Regions from separate parts of the Homo sapiens genome. Here region 2 is linked to region 1. A link means that fine-mapping ties the variant in region 1 to the expression of a gene that starts in the linked region. Tissue or cell type: skeletal muscle. Region 1 holds a variant in brackets; the other region holds the start of a gene. All regions are shown on one strand. Distances are from middle to middle.

Region 1 (5,421 bases):
AAGTTGGTGGTGTAAGGGAAGGCGAAAACTCACTGTCCTTTTAATTTTGTTTCCTTGTTCCAAACCTGGATTATAAAATATATCAAATAAAATGCAGACAAAACGCTGGACGGGGGCAACCACTGCTTTTAAGGTATGTGAGCTGAGGGCAGTAAATCTACTCAAATTAAAATTTCAAAACTGTGTGATCTGCATTCTTGTCCACCTACAGACTATCCTAAACATCCTGCCATTAATTAGCTGAACAGCCCATCTAGTAAACAAGACCGATGGTTGAGGGGCTGGAAAAGAGGAGGAGTCAGCAAGTTGAAAGTCACAACAGACCAGCCCACTCCCTCAGATAAAAGAAAGGTAAATTTGTATTTTATTTTGTTCACAAGAAATCACCTTAATATAACATTGCCTTTCCTGTTGTTGCAGGCACATCACAGTTGTCACATCAGCAGGCTAGAAAAGCCATCCCATTCCTGCGGTAGGCATTCTGTCAAAGAAAAAGAAATCTGCAATGAATTATCACATGAAGTCAAACAAGGAAAGGAGGCAAAAAGCAAGCAGAGCCCTCTTCCTGTTTTGTAGACTCTGCTGGCTACAATCTAATAGAATGCTTAATCTGAATATTTCTGGTGGCAAAACTATAGCAACCATTCTGTCTATTAAAAAGTCAGTGTGGTTAACAAGTGGTTAGTGATTCTATTTTTGGGAAGTAGCAGATACATAAAATAAGACATCCCATTTTGTTAACTGATTGGGCTTGGTTAGGCCAAAGAGATGTATTGAATCTGTTTGTCTTTTATAAACATGTGTTCTCTATTCGATATGCTCAGGAATCACTTCTAACTAACTAAGTATCTTAATAGTCTATAAATTACTGACTCATTACTGGCCCTTCCCGGGCCTAATTTATAGTCTGAGTGAAAAGCTGTCGGAACAGACACTAATAGAGGCCTCTCCTCCTCCCTAAAATATGATGATCTCAAAGGAGTTCTGTATAGTTCTGCATATTGTAGACAGTATCAAAAATGCAAATCTTATATAATTTTATATACATACCTGTACGTACAGATGTACACATGGATATGCATGGTGGGATAAAATACTCCCATAAAAGAAAATGGGAAAATGGATTCTAAGTGCAATAATTAATACGTTTCAGTAAAGAAAGAAAAGTTGCATGCTTTTCATTCCAAGAGACATATTTTGCATTTCAGTGTTGGGAGACCTGGATCACACAGGGTCTCTGTAACATCCTGAATTCCACCATAAGACCCAGAGGGGAGCAGAACTAAAATTCAGGACTTAGGAATAAAATTTCCCTTTCCCTGGCACATTTTTAATCATTTAAACTAGTAACAGTCACATCCAGAGAATTCATAACCGTCAATCTTTTCAGAAAAACAAAGAAAATCATAAAATTCAGGTTAGGGATTTTTCCCCCTTAGGCTAATAACTCTGAAGCAGTTCTGGAGTCTGTATACTTCCAGCCCAATGAATTAACCTTGAACAGCCACAGCCATATTTTAAGAAATACAGAATAACCTTTTACGATCAAGATAATGCTATGGAGGCAGTGAAATCTTCATCTTAAAAAATAATTAAACCACATTTATAATTAATTATACTAAAAATGGAAAGTAGACTTAACCCTTTTAGAAAGACTTCCATCAACATGAGGTGAAACAAATATAGTTTTCTAGATAACCTTCTCTTAATCATAAAATTCAATTAACTTGAAAACCTTCTCTCCAAATATCCTGCTTAAGAAGATTTACTGTGCTTGTCAGGCTTTGGCGCCCTGGCTGAAATTTCTTTGCTTAGTTATGCTGCTATGCAGTTCACTCCAGATCAGTGTATCAGGGATGACAAAACAGTGGCACATTCCAAGTGTCATTCCTCAGTGTTCTTTCTGTGAGCTTGTTCTTTACCATGGGGCTTTTTGTGTTGTAGAACACTTCTGGATTGAAGAAAACATTCTAACAAGGACTAGAAAATTCCAACTCTACTTCCTAAAATTGCGCTATAGAACAGTGTTAAGTGAATGCCTCAGAGAGCCACAAATAACTTGCAGGAATGCATAGGGTGTCTTCCCACAACCACAGGCAGTGGAGCCTCAGTCTGTGAAACAAACAGCTCCTACCACCACGGCTGCCTTACAGAGAGGCTTATGCCAAAGTAATACTCTTAGCTTCTTGACCTTGATATTTTAAATTTTATAACCACAGTGACAATCTTTAACATCATGTATTATTTAAAGCACAGGGATGGTTTTATATGGAGTTAAATGGACCTAGGAGTAAGGCTGCATTCCTTCTAAACATACAGTGTTGAAGTGAGCCTTGCTTGAGAAAGGAGGTTTTGGCTTAGAGGGAGACTGAGTCTTAGCTGAGTTCACCTGAGAAATAACCAGGTTTTAATCTTTTCAGACGGGGCAATATAAAATAGTTCTTATTAGCATGGAAAAGGTCACTTTTGAAAGATCGATTCACCTTCACAGATGATTTATCACTGCTTTGCAAACAAAAGATTTTTTTTTAATAACTTATTTA[A/G]TAACACAGATCCTATGAGAAAACCAAAGTTTAGAGTTGACCCAGATTTCTGTGATGTTCTTCCCATTTGAATTCTGAAATAAATAAAGAAGGAACAAACAAGCATGTGTAATTAGTGAAGAGCAATTTCAGTAAACATATTCCCTAGGGTACTCTATTTTGAGTCACTGCTTTTTCCTTTTGATGTACAAAGGATGTACATTGTCTATGTAGGGCAATTATGGGAACGTCCCAACTTTGGCATGCTTTCCAGAATAAGCAACTTTACAGGAAGATGGATGAAGACAACAACTCATCTTCACGTCAACTGTAAATTTCTCTCTATTTGTGTTGCAAATGTTGAAACTAAATTTAAACATTGCTTGGTGTGAGGGCCTTCCAGAGGCCACATTCTCATGGAATACTTTGTATCCCACTTACTTTCTTCTGTCAGACCCTATGAATGATTCCCAGTTCTGTATCTATCTTTACAGACACTCCTAGTTAGTAAAATCCAGGCTTTGACCAGAAAGAGTCAGGACTTCCACCCACTACTGAAAATTATAGCTTAATCAATAACACAATTAGACCTCCCCAACAAACTGGATCCTACGTGCCTATATACTACTTAAGGTTCATTTCTGGTTTAATAAAGCTCTGTTCTCAACATCAGTTGCTCCTTTGTGAATTTGCTGAAAAGCTCAGACATTTTAGCATCTCTTAAAGTTCACAGCAAAGACAATACTTAATGTGTTTAAGGCCCAATTAGTTATAAAATTAGGAATTCATAGTTCCCATTTTTTTTAATTGAGGACCCAATTTTTGACATTCATTTATTCATACAGTGCCAAATTACGACCTGTGCCAGAATGTCAATCTACCTGGATAAGCAGATACAGATTTTACCTACTGCACTGGGCACTGTGGGGTAATTAATTTCTAAGTGTGTACTTTTTAAAGTGACTGTTTTTTACTTCATATGGACAAGGTAGAGAAAACATTTAAATCCCATAGTGGTTTACTTCTGTTTTTTATGGGTTATCATAAATTGATACATCTTAGGGGATACAAATGAATATTAAAAAGCAAAAGATTAATATTTTTCTTAAAAGGACACATGCTACAAAACTTACTTTGTAGTTCCGACTTAAATATTACTGCGTATTATGTTTGCCATTAGCCTACTTATTAAAACATTAACTATAAACACCAGTCTTTCTTCCAGTACAGACTTGTTTTATTCTATTACCTTTCCTGATTCTCTTCTGCTTTCTCAAATCTTAAATAAACTAGCATAAGAATCTCACTGTAGTAAGTAAGTCCCAAACTCTCCTACAAATACTTTATTTCTCAAAGGCATAAGAAAGAGGTTTTGGTTCTATTGTCTGAATTCCTATAAATTTGCTTAATATGATTTCAGCAAATTTTTACTGAGTTCTTATTCTGTAAATCACTGTGTGCTTGGTGGTACAACAGGACACTAAGATAAATAGACAGTCCCTGGCTTCACTAAACTTCCAGTTTCACATTCAAGTTTTAACCACCACAAGTAAAATGCACTGAGAGGTCATTCTCAAAGTGAGAAAGGAGGGAGAAAACAAAGCAGGCTTTTGTTTTTTTGCTTCTAATCACAATATTTAATTTGAACTTACTTACACTTTCGAAAGGCATGAGATTTGTCTATTTCTCAAAGTAGGGAGGGGCAAAGATTAAAAAATGCTGAGATACATGGTTTTATGGTTTATGAAATATTTTCATGTCTGTATCTAATTTGAGCCTTACCACAATTAGTAAAAGAGTAGATTTTGGATTTAAAACCCAGGGCCTGTGTTCTTTTCATTATACTACATTGTCTTACAATAAACAAAACAAACCAGACAGTCCCCTGCCCCAATTCCACCCAGAGCACTGTAGATACACATATTCTCTTAGTCCTAACAAACTCAGTTCTTGCTAAACATCACTTAAAGGGTAAATTACAATTTTATTTCAAATTTAAGCTAAATCAGCCAGGTATAATACTTCCGAGTACAGACAATGGACCTTAAATCTAAATCATCTTCACTTTGGAGGCTTTCTCAACTACTGCTTATTTTCCAAACTAACTTTAAGAATAGTGTATAGTATAGAACATTGCACCCAAATCACTTGGGGAGCTTTAAAAGACACAGATGCTGTAGCTCCAGTTCTTCAAAGCCAATGGGTCTGAGTGGAGATTAGGCTTTGGAATGTCTTAGAAGTATCCCAGGTGCATAGTGAGAGCTGAGAACAGTGGTAAAATGGATGAGGAGATCATTAACAGGACCCAATAATGGTTTCGTCAATAAATGGAACATTTTCAGAATCTGTCATGATTATGGAGTAAATAAATATTTCCTAATGGAAATTCTAATTTTGGCATTTAGTAAATTTAACATGGAAGAGGCAGAAATTGAAGTTTTCAGATTGTGGCTTTTATCCACAGCAGATGGGTTACCTGTATCTCTCACTTTAGGTTATCTGTAGATTAGGCATTGCTTTCCGCCCCCAAGATGCTGAGATGCCACTGTTAGGAGCACAGTCTGTCTGACTGCCACAACATGTTTAATACTATAGTGAAAAAGGAATTTGGAAACTAAGCCTGCTAAACCAAGCTGAACAAACCCTTTACTAACATCTAGAATCAAGGAACAATAGAACTTTGGAATTGGAAAGTATCTTTGTGAATTCCTCTGGCCCCATTCTTAATTTAACAGATGAAAAAACTAATGCCCAGAGAGAGTGACCCATCCACAGTCACATGGTTTTCGCCTAGGATTCCTGACTCAGTTTAGGGCTTGTTGCAGATGGTTCTGATTCTGCCCAAAGCTATGTGTTTAGCTTCCCCGGCCTTAATGGGGAAAACAGATGCAGGGAAAGA
Region 2 (5,421 bases), 550 kb after region 1:
TTATCAGTGGCTTAAATGGGAAAGTCACTTGCTGGCCTTATTCCAGGTATCTTATTTATTATTTAGACACAAAAACAGTAATTTTGTCACTGTTTTAAAGTATATTTCTGGCCGGGCACGGTGGCTCACACCTGTAATCCCAGAACTTTGGGAGGCTGAGGCGGGTGGAGCACTTGAGATCAAGAGTTCAAAACCAGCCTGGCCAACATAGTGAAACTCTGTCTCTACAAAAAATACAAAAATTAGCCAGGCATGCTGGCATGTGCCTGTAATCCCAGCTACTCGGGAGGCTGAGGCAGGAGAATCGCTTGAACCCAGGAGGGGGAGGTTGCAGTGAGCTGAGATCGCACCATTGTACTCCAATCTGGGCAACAAGAGTGAAACTCCATCTCAAAAATAATAAAGTATTTCTGATATTGCAATGTGGTTAATCATCCTAAAACTATATATTACAAGTCCCAACAAGGCTAACAGTAGGGTGACATTATGATGTGGTCCCAATTCGAACATTTTGATAGTGAAAGGGGTTCTATTAAATAAAATAATTGTGCTGGAACAATCAGGCTTTATACTACGACTGTCTCAGAAAAATTAAGATACTATAGTCACCCATAAAAGCACCCCATTCTGATTTGTATATTATGAGCTATTCTCTCCATCTGATTTAACTCGTGAGCTTTAAGTTATTGCTCCAGATCTAACAATTATCTTCAGCCTTAAGACCAAGAGCATCATTTTTTTTTTTAAAGAGACAAGGTCTCCCTCTGCAGCCCAGGCTGGAAGCCTGGCCTGACCATGATTCACTGCAGCCTTGAACTCCTAGGTTCAAGAGATCCTCTGGCCTCAGCCTCCCAAAGTGCTGGGATTACAAGCATGAGCCAACGTGCCTGGCCCAAGGGCACCATTTTACAGACATCAGGCCAAGGTTAAGGGTGCTACCGCTACCTATAAAGGTTTTTTATTTGTTCTTTTAGTTTTATTTTCAAATTTGACTTTATATACACTTGCTTTAAAAAAAAAAAACAGATGCACATATTTCAAGTAAAGTAATTTTGTGAAACATCTATTACCTAATTTCACTTATCTCTCCAAAAGATTTGGATAACCATAAAACTAGTTCTAAAATGTCCTAATGCTCAAGAGTTACAATTTTTCAAATCGCTTTATTACACAAAAGGTTAAAAAAGAAAAAAACTTGAATAAGAGCTGGAAACTTCTCACTGAAAAACCAACCAAAGTGGTAAAAGATAGCAGAAACCGACAATCACAAAATAGTACAATAATGTTTAAAGAAAACTCCAGTTAATACTGTCATAGCTCTCTGAATCTGGCATTAGCTGTACAACCTAGGAGACAACGTTTTGCTTTAATTTGTCAAGATGTAAATAAGTACTAACAGACCCATGGTCTGAACTGCAGTATTTGAATGAAAGGCATTATTTGAATATAATTACAATTCCCTATGGCAATAAATGTTCCAAAGAGCTGGCTTATCTGATTTAAAACTCAACCATATCAAGACTCGGAAGGACTCTCAAAATCTAAATTGTAGCCCTGTGCTGTCCAATGCAGTAGCTACCACTAGCCACATGTGGGTATTTAAACGTAAATCAATTTATTAATTTATGAATAAAATTAAAAATTAAGTTCCTCAGTGACACTTATCACATTTCAAGTGCTGAAGAGCCACTGTGCCTAGGCTACCACTAGTGCCTAAAGGCACAGATTATGGAACATCTCCATCAAGGCAGAAACTGCTAGTGAAAAGTGCAGCCCTAGACTTAGGCATACTTCGCTCCAACGTCCCGAATATCCTGAGATAAGAAACTTTCCATAGCACAATGAAGAGCATTCCATTCTTGCAAAGTACTCTCACGAACTGTTTCTCATAGGCAAATTCAGCCTCTTTGAAACATTCACCAGAAATTCCCCAAGTTTTGTCCTTCAAGTAAATCTTTGCAGGGCGAATTTAATTCCTCTTCCAGAGTCTGCCCTTCACATATACTAAGACCCCAGGTCCTCTCCTTCCAAATACATACATACATATATACACATACATATACTTATATACACACATATGTATATACATATATATACACACACATTTCTTTCTACCGAAATAACTTAACATTTCTATTAGCCTCTTGGAGAAATGCTAATTTATCCACGTGTACAGTAATACTACGTCCAGGATCGTCTGAGTGTCAAATATTACATATCACTGTCTTCATAACTTCACTCTCACGTGTGAGACCAAGTGTCCTGATTCTCTGAGAAAATAAGGTCACAGTCATTCTGAACTCCTAAAACGTGGAGAGCAAAAGCAGAGCTAATATGTACTGAGCAGCACCTGGCGCTGTTCTAAGCGTTTAACGTGTATTTTCTCATATAATCCTCACAATTCTGAAATAGGCTATAAGATCGCCATTTTACAGACCAAAACAAGGCAAAGACAAGCTAAATAATTTCCCCAGGGGTCACAGACGTGAGCTCACCCCACAGAGAACACAGCGGATCTTTTCCTCTTTCTGGATGCTACACTCCCACTAACTACCTAACTCTTCTCTCGCCGTGCCATAAAGCAACAATTTCCCTCTTTAATGATTCCTCCGGCAGCCCCCACACTACCTAGACGACCCGCGCACCCCGCTTCTCAGCACAGCCCAGCCCCCCTCACCCCACGCCCACCCGCCAAAAGGGAGGAGTCGAGAGGCAACTCCACGCTCGGCAGCGGAACCAGGGCGCTGCGCCCGGCCAGCGCCTCCCACAGCCGCCCTCCCTTCAACACTCCGGCGTAGACCACGAAGACCCAGGCAGCCGCCCTCGAGCCGGGGCCAGGGCGTGGCCGGCGCGGGGGCCCAGCGACGCTGGGATCTCCGCTCTGCGTCCCTCCCGGCTCTCTGACGTCTCCCCCGCCCGAATCCCCGCACCGCCCCCCGCAAGCCCTACAACCTCTGCTTTAAGAACCCTTGGAGGCACTGCTGCGCTTCCCGCGAGGAGAATGTGGGGGTGGAGATGGTGCGGTTTCTGCTGCTGCGGCCCGGGACACGCTTGGAAAGGGGCGGGGTGGGGGACTGAGAGTGTGGAGTGTAGAAAGGGAAAAGGTGACTCGGCTGTGTGACGGGGCGATGGGGGGGGTACAAGATGGCGTGAGCCCGACTCTCGGTGGGGCGGGGGTTGCGGAGACTGAGGAGTAAGCGATACGGACGCCCCCCGCACTGGCAGTGCGGGCGCATGCGCGCTTGGCCAGGTGGCGCGCGCTCTCCCAGCCCGAGCGAGCTACTTCCGCCACGCTCGCCGGGGGCGGGGCGTTGTGCGCGGCCTTCAGGGCCCGGCTTGGGCAGCGCTGAGCCACGCGGCGGCGTTTAGAGCTGGGGACGCTGGGAGCGGAGTGGGGACGAGCTGAGATCGGTCAGGGTGTACAGGGTGCAGGCTTGAATTCTTTAGGAATTGGGCCCGAGAGGGCTAGGATTTTTGAAGGATTGGGTGACCGGCACTGGAAGTTGATTTTCAACTCCGAGGAAGAGATTCACCGTTCTAAGCTTCTTTCCAGGAATTGGAGTGAACGGGATCTTAATGGGATTGCGCGTTTACAATGGTGAAGGGAAACGGAGGGGTCTGAACGCTCCCCGCAGGGCCGCAGTACAGGCGTGTGGATGTGGAACCCTTTCTGGGACGGCGAAACCAGCTCTTACGCCGCTTCCGCGCGCCATCACTCCCTACCCTGACCTCGCACAGAATCTGTTTCATTAATCTGCTATTAATGTTTTTTCCCCAACTCATGTTACTAGACGCAGGCGTTTAACTACCATGTTTTGTTATTGAAAACTTTTTCTACTTGAAGGCTTTTTTTTTTTTTTGGACGATTCTGTGTTTAGATTTTGGCCTGTTCCTCATTTTAAAATCTTGCACCCCCAGTATTGTACTGTACATTCTGTCCTGCCACATTTAATTGATATAGATGTAGTTCTTTAAATAATACAGTAGTCGTAAGACAATGCTTTCAGTCTTTCACTCTTTATATTATATGAAGTCTTATTTATATTTAACATTCTTATTGCCTGCTTAGAGAAGAAAACTGGTTATCCATGCTCACCTTCACACCTGTGTTGTCAAATACTATAAAATACTGTATTTTATAGGGATTCAAGTATTAACCCTCACCAAGTCTTTTTAAGCATCACTGCTTCAGTTATTTTCTTGCCTATAGATACTGTGAGTTCTGAAATCCCTTCCTTCTATTTGCTTAAATTGTTTAAAATAGCAACTTATTTGGTTATTTCCTCTGTGGATTGTAGTTGAGTCTGCTAGTGTTGTGTTTGATTCTCTTTAATCTCCCCAACGCTTCAATATTTGCCAAATACCTAAAATTCCAAAAGAATAGATATATTTAGGATGTGAGAGCTCAGCTTGATGTGTAAATCAGGGATCAATTCATTGCTGAGCAAAGTGTGCAGTATAAGGGAAAGTAACAGAGTGAGTATGGTGATAACTTCTTACATGGGAAGACTGGTTGAAAGCTCTTTTGAGTACATTACCAAGAAATTAGTTAACAGAAGATTAAGAGAAAAATTAATGTTCACATCTAAAGAAACATAAAAGTAGATCATTTCAATTAAAATTATGTTCAGTTAATGTTATCATAGAAGTTCCTGCACTGGAGTTTCACCTGCATCAGATGAGTACCTGTTTGATCCAGTTTATCAGGATAGAATCCAGATCATCTTATTCTAGGATACTGGTGTCCAGCCTGCATAAAATCACACACAGGCCAGGCGCGGTGGCTCACGCCTGTAATCCCAGCACTTTGGGAGGCCGAGACGGGCAGATCACAAGGTCAGGAGATCGAAACCATCCTGGCCAACATGATGAAACCCCGTCTCTACTAAAAATACAAAAAAGTATCCGGGCGTGGTGGCACGTGCCTGTAGTCCCAGCTACTCGGGAGGCTGAGGCAGGAGAATCGCTTGAACCTGGGAGGCGGAGGTTGCAGGGAGCCGAGATCACGCCGCTGCTCTCCAGCCTGGCAACAGAACTAGACTCCGTCAAAAAAAGAAAAAAAAAAATCACGCACAACAAAAGTTAATGAGAGTGACACATGGAGAAGGGAAACTGAGTTAAGGCATTGATACAGGAAGTTTAAAAATTTATTCTTAGGAAACTGAATTGGGCTGTTGGCAGAGATCTGATTTTTAAAGTCACATGAGTTAACCAGGTTCCTACCTCCTGGAATTTCTTAAAATCCATTTTTGAAAATCTGATTTAGCCATAATTTTGCTCATAGTTTGAGACCATTGCTATATACAAAGGGCCAAAAATATTTTTGCATTACATTCATATCAAATATCCTAAACTATCAATGGTACTAGGGTATCTTAATTATAACAAAGCTAAAACAGCGAAGCTGTTGCTGAAGTTAAG

Which allele goes with the higher level. Positions count from the first base shown, and alleles are read on the strand shown. Sizes are in standard deviations (SD) of each study's normalised expression.
For the expression in skeletal muscle of the gene that starts at base 3,119 in region 2, allele G in region 1 goes with a lower level than allele A (moderate effect, 0.49 SD a copy in FUSION).

The links. PIP is the estimated chance that this variant, and not a neighbour inherited with it, causes the effect.
Region 2: SUPT3H starts here. The variant in region 1 is fine-mapped to the expression of SUPT3H in skeletal muscle (FUSION, PIP 0.95).

Annotation. Positions count from the first base shown.
Region 1 is chr6:44,829,377-44,834,797 of GRCh38, forward strand. SUPT3H (SPT3 homolog, SAGA and STAGA complex component) reads right to left here. Exons shown (of 11, transcript NM_003599.4): 11 at 1-481. The coding sequence ends at 440. LOC101929770 (a long non-coding RNA gene) reads left to right here. Exons shown (of 3, transcript XR_926855.3): 3 at 212-3,734. Among named protein-coding and RNA genes, the nearest start is that of MIR586, 370 kb to the right of the region's middle. The variant A/G (reference allele first, on the strand shown) is at 2,544.
Region 2 is chr6:45,374,816-45,380,236 of GRCh38, forward strand. SUPT3H (SPT3 homolog, SAGA and STAGA complex component) reads right to left here and starts at 3,119. Exons shown (of 11, transcript NM_003599.4): 1 at 2,953-3,119. All of the region lies in intron 2 of RUNX2 (RUNX family transcription factor 2), which reads left to right. RefSeq lists silencers at 2,761-3,040, 3,361-3,410 and an enhancer at 3,051-3,594.